Homo sapiens: one gene and its partner. The protein of the gene in region 2 purifies or fractionates together with the protein of the main gene of each other region. This does not show direct contact. Each region holds a gene or a part of one and is shown on either strand. Other genes may lie near its edges. The genes, in order: LIMCH1 and SYTL5.

What was found.
Region 1: the proteins of SYTL5 (region 2) and LIMCH1 purify together in Homo sapiens (affinity purification with mass spectrometry; one large-scale study listed by BioGRID and IntAct). This does not show direct contact.

The regions. Positions count from the first base shown.
Region 1 is NC_000004.12:41,536,823-41,541,089, forward strand, and holds the start of LIMCH1 (LIM and calponin homology domains-containing protein 1), read left to right. Parts: upstream 1-1,334; 5' UTR 1,335-1,528; intron 1,529-4,267.
Region 2 is NC_000023.11:38,012,873-38,016,695, forward strand, and holds part of SYTL5 (synaptotagmin-like protein 5), read left to right. Parts: intron 1-3,823. UniProt on the Homo sapiens protein: May act as Rab effector protein and play a role in vesicle trafficking. Binds phospholipids.

The DNA of each region.
Region 1 (4,267 bases), on a different chromosome or scaffold from region 2:
TGGGATCTTAAAACAGAAAGAGCATATTAGGGAAAAACTAATGAAATCCAAATAAAACATGGATTTAGTTAATAGTAGTGTACCAGTGTTTATTTCTTAACTGTGATAAATGTAGATGTACCATAGGAATGTAAGATGTAAGACATGAGTTATACTGAAACTCTGCATATTATCTTTGTAGCTTTCTATAAATCTAAAAACTATTCTAAAATAAAAAGTTCACTTAAAGTAGGATGAATGACAATAAAGATAAAAGAGCATAATGCAAGGAAACTATGAAATAGGTAAGGAAATACAGAAGTTATTAATAAATATTAAATGTCAGCCTACCACTTGATGTATTTGTGTCAATAAATGGCAGGATACCAGTGAGTCCATTGGCATATTAATCCAATAAACTTTTATAAATGATGAATTGGTTGTAAACATTGTGTTTTATAGCATTTGAAAATTCCAAATGGTAACTCCGCACACGATGCTTCTGCTCACATATTTCAGCATCCTGCTTTTAGAATCTGCAGAAAGAAATAGTTCATGTCCTTTAGGGAGGTTTAATAAAAAGCAACAGGTGGAAAATGGATTTTGCAGTAGCATGAACAGCCATAACCATAAATACTAGTACCTCAGAATTATACCAGCAGAGGACTGTAAACACATTAATCTCCCAGCAGTGCAGAAATTCCATTCTCAGATGTCATCTCAATTTCAGGCACAAAGATTGAATGCCTCCATTTAAATTCAAAACACTGAAGGAATATGATGATCCTTTTTTTTCATGGGGATTCATGGAGTGAGTTTGCCAGTTTCCTCATCTATAAGATGGGGTTGATAAATCCCATCTCAGCATTGTGGGATTAAATGAGATGATATACATAAAATACCTAATATGATGGATGGTACACAGGATGTTTTCAATAAATGGTAGTTTACTTTTTATTATGCTCATGAACATTAGGATGGTCTTAGAATCCCAGAACTAGAAGCCACTTAGAGATTTACTTTTTGAAACATTGTTATTTTACAAATAAGGAAACTGAGACCAGAAGGCAGTGACTTGCCTGGAGTCAGGCAGCAACTTTGTTCCAGAGTTGGGACTGGAGTGAGTCTTTGTTCCTCGGGTCCCACTTGGGTGCTTTTTCTAGATCCAGATTTCCTGACAGTACTGCAAACCTACTGTGTGCTAGTGGCTGACACAAAGCTCTCTGCACAATTCCAATCCTGGCATCTCTACTTCTGAAGATGCCATTCCTTTTCCTCAGAGGGAATGGGCTTCTCCGCCTCCCTCTCCAATAGGTGTGGCAATCAGCTGTCTTCCAGTTCCCTTTCACTGCATCAGCATTTCAGCCGCAGCAGCCTGCTTGTGGACAGAGCAGGGGTTGGCAGTGGTGACGACTGTTTTGGGAAAGGAAATGTAAGGGCATTTCGGCTGCTGTGCTGGGGCTGACGAGGAGCACACAGGAGAGATGCCCCTCCCATCTCCCAGAGTGGGTTGGCTGGAGTTCATTGCGGAGCATGAGGACGTGTGGGGGTAAGTAAAATTCATTATAAAAGAAATACATGCTTAGGGGTATCCATGATGGAAAGAAGGAAGCTATTTAGACTTTAATACTTGGTTTAAAAAAAAGTGACTTTTTATTCACTTATTAGTATGGCGAAAATAATATGAAAATTACTTTCCTGTGGATTCATCTTGTCCTTTGATAACTGTTAGCACCTGTTGCTTTTAATTAAGCTTTTTTTTTTTTTTAATTCCCTAAGGAAAGCATTGTTTTTTATTTTCCGGTATGTGGTACAAGACACATAACTCCATTAGTTTAGTCAAAATAAAAAGGATTTTTGAGAATTTTGAGAATGAGAAGCAACTTGGCTGCATTTTTAAGATGTGGTCCAGCAGCACATGGTGTTGTGGGGGAGATGTGGCTGCATTCATGGTGGGGCTGCTTCACCTGAGCCCCTGTCACATTCTGCTCCTGACTCCACAGCCCCCTTTGCTTTTTAAAAACTTCCATTTCTTAAAATGAGGAGGAAAAGAAGCAAGGAAGACATTGGGGAGGCAGGGAGGAGTCTGGAGGGAAGGGCTGCATCTCCAGCCTTGCCCACTTAGTCCTTGTCCTTCATAGTCACTATTTACTGCAGGCCGGGAAAGGAATGGGGGTTATTTCTGGACAATTGTCTCATAAAATCCCGTCAGACCCGTCTGAATGCTAAACGTTCCATGGCACTGGTTATCTAGGGGAAGAAAATTTTCCTTAGCCAAATTTATGAGGCTGGGTTGAAAATCAGGTTGAAACAGAGCCTGGCGAATCCCTATGGCAAAATGATTCATCTTTGTGGAGTCGGGAAATCTATTTTTATCACCTTTATTCAGCCAGCTCCTGATTGTGATTCTCTCACTGAGCTACAGCCGTTTTCTTCATGGTGCTGAATAGACCAAATGTCTCAGGAGTCTGAAACTTCTCTCCTGCCACTCCCAGAGTGGCTGATTCAGCAGTCCCGGGAGAAGGGGTTTGTCCTGTGCTGCGCGGGTGGGTTCCGCACAAGGTGAAGGTCAAATAAAACCGAGAGGCTGCAAGTGTCAGCAGCCAGCCTTTGACTCAGGAATCCTGCCTGAGGGTATGTGCCACTCTGCTCTCCTGCTCTCTCTGTAAGGTGACTAGAAGGTGACTGGGCAGCCATAACTCCTCCAATTTTGAAGACCTTCCCAAGGGAAGAAGGGGCAAGAATAAGCCACCCTCCTTACAGCTGCCAATACATCTCCTCAATCTAATCATCGGGCAGAGAGGGACTTCCTAACACCGTTGTATTCATTTTCCCATTTCCATTTAGTTCTGTAACTATGCATTCCAGGCTGATACATAGTCCTAGCTGGTTCTTGCTGGAGTCCCAACTAATGCTGAGAGGAGTGGCAATTGTTCTCTATAATAAAGTTTAAAGGATAAAGATATGGAAGAAGAACTCACTCTTGAGTTTCCTTTTCTAATGGATTCAGCATGCTTACTCTCTGGGAGCTATAACAAATGGCAATTAGGAAAGCAACAGGAATGTTGACTAGACAGGAACAGTGACCATGGCTGTTGGGGGTATTCCCTGCACCTGGTATATAGTAGACACTCAATAACAATTTGGGAAATGAATGACCAGGATACTGTTCCCCATAGGCTTCAGTTGGCCTTCTTAAGAGCTCTCCTTCAGGACATAGTATGCAGGGCAGCTAGGAGCTGACATTCTAGAGTGAGATGGCCTGAGTTCAAATCCTGGATTTGCAGCTTCTCAGTTGTGTGCTGATCTTTGGCAGGCAACACAATCGTTTGTTTCCTCGTCTGTAAAAATGGACATAATATAGTAACTACCTTATGTGGTTTTCATGAAGAGTAAATTAATTAATATAGGTAAAGAGTCTAGATTTTTTTTTCTTGTCATGTGGTTCAAGATATGAAGAAGAAGAAAAACAGGAGTAGGAAAAGAAGGAGAAAGAGGAGGAGGAGGAACTTTGGCTGTTGGGATAAATTTGGGACCCTTTGAGATTTTGGCCCTGCCTTTTAGGTTGAATATTTCCCTAAAATCATGATTCAGTGATTTTTAAACCTTCTCTTGTCCTGTAGAGAGAATAATTTGAGAATAAAAGAATAAAACGGGCCAGATGCAGTGGCTTACGCCTGTAATCCTAGCACTTTGGGAGGCTGAGGCAGGTGGATCACCTGAGATCAGGCGTTCGAGACCAGCCTGGCCAACGTGGCGAAACTCTATCTCTACTAAAAATACAAAAGTTAGCCGGGTGTGGTGATGGGCACCTGTAATCCCAGCTATTCAGGAGGCTGAGGCAGGAGAATCGCTTGAACCCGGGAGGTGGAGGTTACAGTGAGCTGAGATCGCACCACTGCACTCTAGCCTGAAAAGAAAAAAAAAGAATAATAAAATGGATTTCAGGGGGAAAATGATGACGAATTATTGCCAAGAGTTATTGAACTCCTGCTCCTTGCCAGGTACTAACCATATTCAGTGTTGAAACAAACTGTCAGTCCTTGCCCTGATGGACGCTGCAGTTGACTTTCAAGGGCTGCTGGGCAGTGTGAATTCAATGGCTCAGCGAACACAGCTGCTACGTTCCTTGTTCTCTACCTTTTAAAAAGGAATGTTGAGTAGATCTAGAAGGATGAAGCTTTAAACTTAGCTCCCAACAGGAAATGAGGAGTGAGGAAGTAGGGAGAGATTTGTGTGTGTGTGGAGTAGCAGATGAAGTCTAACTGTACAGCAGTATAAAGGCAGT
Region 2 (3,823 bases):
TCCAAAGATGTCTGTGGCCACAAACAAATGTATAATTTTTAAGTTGCATATTTTGACTAGAACTAGATATGTACTAAAAAACCATTTTGTGATGAAGAATCACTTCCCACTAATTGAGAGACCAGCACAGGGAGAATACTATTGATCTTAAATACAAGGAAGTCCAGACATTAATATGGAAAAAATATAGATTGGGATGTCCTGTTTGCATTAGCCATGTTCAAGAAGGAAGAATTTAATTTGCTTTGAACTACTCACAGCTGCCATCTAATTATTTTTGTTGACTGTTACAGAGTTTGAGCTCCAAACACAGGAAGGTTATTTCTAAATCAGTTATACACAACAACCAAACAGCTATTGATTTTCTTTCAAGTGAATTCCCATCTGACTCTTATTGTTCTTGTGAATAATAGTCATATGTATGGCTTTATACTTAAGCACAATAGGATATAACTAAATATTGGCTCAACTCAGACCTAAAGAGTAGGTTCCTGAACAGTGAGAATATCATCTAGTGATAATCTTTCACTGCTTATACTGGGAAAAATGTTGAACCTGGGTCAGCAAACATGAAATGTAGGTTCAGTACTGCTCCTAATGATAATGCCAAAGGCTCACACTTTCTGAGGATTTACCGTGACTCAAGAACTATTCAAGTGTTTTCTATGTAACCAAGGCATACAGAGGTTCAGTCATGTTTCTCAGAAATTTTAGAGCCAAGATTTAAACCAGAGTTCCTGCTTTGTACCAGAGTCACTTTGGTCAGCTTAAGTAACTTCCAAAGGCATCTTCCTGGGGTATTTTTTCCTGCTGCACCAATTTTTACCTTTCTTCCTGATTCTCAGGCTCACTCAATCTATACTGGTATCTGCGAACCTGTCACTGACCTCACCCCATCTCCAGCATCTCACTGATTGGTTTCCTCTCCATGATCTTTTCTTAAGGGGACCCTGCATTCTTTGGGCCCCTCATCATTACTCAAGGCCCCTAGATCTACTGGCCCCCTCAGTCCTCCTAGTCCCTCAACCACCACCAACTCCTCCTCTCCTAGCTTAGCTCCCCCATTCCTGCTCACAGGAGCCAGGTAGCATCAGGACCTCCCCAATCTCATTTTCCTCTCTACCCTCTCCACACTCTGACTACTGTTTCAGCTTTTATTTCTTTCTTTAGTCAGGGCAATCTGCTCTGATGTCATATCCTACATCCTCTCTACACTGTCATAATAAAACTCTTTTGGTATGTACAAGTGTGTACCCTCCAAAGCAGGAGTGCTGGGCACTGGTATAAATTTGACCAATACAAAATTAAACACACACACACACCTGTGTGTTATGTTGTATATTATGTTATATATAATATTGTTGTGTGTGTACATATATGTTATATGTATGTATATTTAATTCTACAGTATATTATAGTGGTCAAGAGCACAGTCAATAGAGTCAGACCCCTTAGTCAGAATCCAGCTTCACCACTTACAAGCTGTGTAACACTGGACAAGTTACTTAACCTCCCTCTGCCTTGGTTTTCCTACCTGTAATATGGGAATAGTGAAAGTATCTAAATCAAATAATTGATATTGTAAACCAAAAGGTATCTGAGACAGGTCTCAATCAATTTACAAAGTTTATTTTGCCAAGATTATGGATGTGCCAGTGATACAGCCTCAGGAGGTCCTGACGACATGTGCCCAAGGTGATTGGGACACAGCTTGGTTTTATACATTTTAGGGAGCCGTGAGACATCAATCAGTATAGGTAAGATGAACATTGGTTCAGTCAAGAAAGGCGGGACAACTCTAAGCAGGGAGGGGGCTTCCAGGTCACAGGTAGATAGGAGACAAATGGTTGCATTCTTTTGATATTTTGATAAGCACAATTTACAGGAATAGTCACTTATGCCTTAGTCTGGCTTAGTGAAAAAACAGGGCAAAGGAAGCAATCAGATACACATTTGTCTTCTGTGACAGAGGGATGACTTTGAGTTCTCCCTGTCCTTTGTCCACAAGAAATTTCCCTGTGAGAAAAATTGTGAGGGAGGTATGTAGCTTTTTTATCTTTGTAGGTATCTTATTTAGGAATAGAATGGGAGGCAGGTTTGCCCAATGCAGTTCCCAGCTTGACTTTTCCCTTCGGCTTAGTGATTTTGGGGTCCAGAGATTTATTTTCCTTTCACAATGTAAAGATTGTACTGTTCATATATGTAAATCAAGAATTCATAACAGGGCCTGAAACTTGTATATAAGTGCTGAGTGTTCACTATCATTATTACCATGACTCATAAGGAAAAAGCATTAAGGCAAGTATAATAATGGAGCAGGAAATATACATTTAAGTGGAAAATATAGTACAACATGGATAATATGACATGTGTGATTAATTACGACTTGAATAATGCGAAGCATGTAATTATTTTTGGCTTTGCATTTGATATCTGAGGAATCCCACCATTTCACATGAAAAAGTGCATGTGACAAGGAATCTTCCAGGAATTTTGCATTAGAAGTTCCTTTTGATCCTCCTCAAAACCCTGTGAAGTTAGTACTATTATTATCTCCACCCTGTATGAAAAGAAACCAAGGTTCAGAGAGGTTAAGTAACTTAGTTTCTGTAACATAGTAATTGCCAAAGCTAGGATTTGAATGCAGAGCTTCCTGACTCCAAAACCTGACTCTTTGCAATTCTCCACTTGAGGTGTCCATTGGAACCCCATAGGACGTTAAAAAAAATCCATGGAACACAAACTCAAGAGATTCTGTTTTTTTGAAAAGCAGCTTTTGTGAGATATAATGTACATACTGTACAATTCACCCATTTGAAGTGTACAATTCAATGTTTTTTTTTTTTTAGTCTATTCACAGTGCGTTTAGCCATCACCACAATCTAATTTCAGAACACTTTCGCTCTGGGCGGGCATGTCCACAGAATCCCTGGGGTCTTAATTTCAAAGCCACAGACCTTGTAGGAGTCTTGAATGAACTTCAAATGATTTGTGAACTTTTTCTAGGATCCACAGCTTTCACTATCTTCTCTAAAGTGATAAAAATATAAGCCAAAAATGTATTAAGAAACTCTAGACCAGAATGGCCTTGAACTTTAAGGTACAAATCACTGGGGGACCTTGTTAAAATTTAGATTCAAATTCAGTAGCTCTGGAATGCGCTAGGCCTACTATCATTAATTTTAATGATAGGAATGCTCACTTTAAGTTAGATGTTATGTGCCCTAAAATTCCATTCTTCTCTTTAGTAGATCTATGCTATGAAATAACTGCACTCAATTATTATTGTTATATTTTTAATGTCATCGGTAAAATATTGGCAGACATTTATTTTCTTGATTGATGCATACTTATCCACAAAATAGCTATGGTTTTGGCTCTTGGCGCAAAAAGTCTAAAATATTTACTAATTGTTCCTTAATAGAAAAAGTTTGCCAACCTCTAATATAGACCATGGGGGAAAGCCACCTTTAAGGAGCAGAAATGTTGTTCATCTTACTCTCCACAGCTCCTTGCTACATGTGGCAGACATGACATTATCAATCAGACTTATAGGAATCCTAACCAAGTATGAGGGGCAGCAAGCTGGCTATATTTATGTATAACTCCTCCTCTAGAGGAGAAATCTGGGCAGATGAGGGTCAACTTCACTTTTAGTTTAAAAATACATCTCCCTAGAGCTTCAAGCTGCTCTCCTGGGTGATAGCATGGGTGGGTGTCCACAAAAGACCTTCATGCATTTTCAGTTAGGTCATGTCTCTATGATCTTGGAAGCAAGATTCCCTAAGAGTAGTCTGCAATCCATATAGAGAGCTTGGTTAAT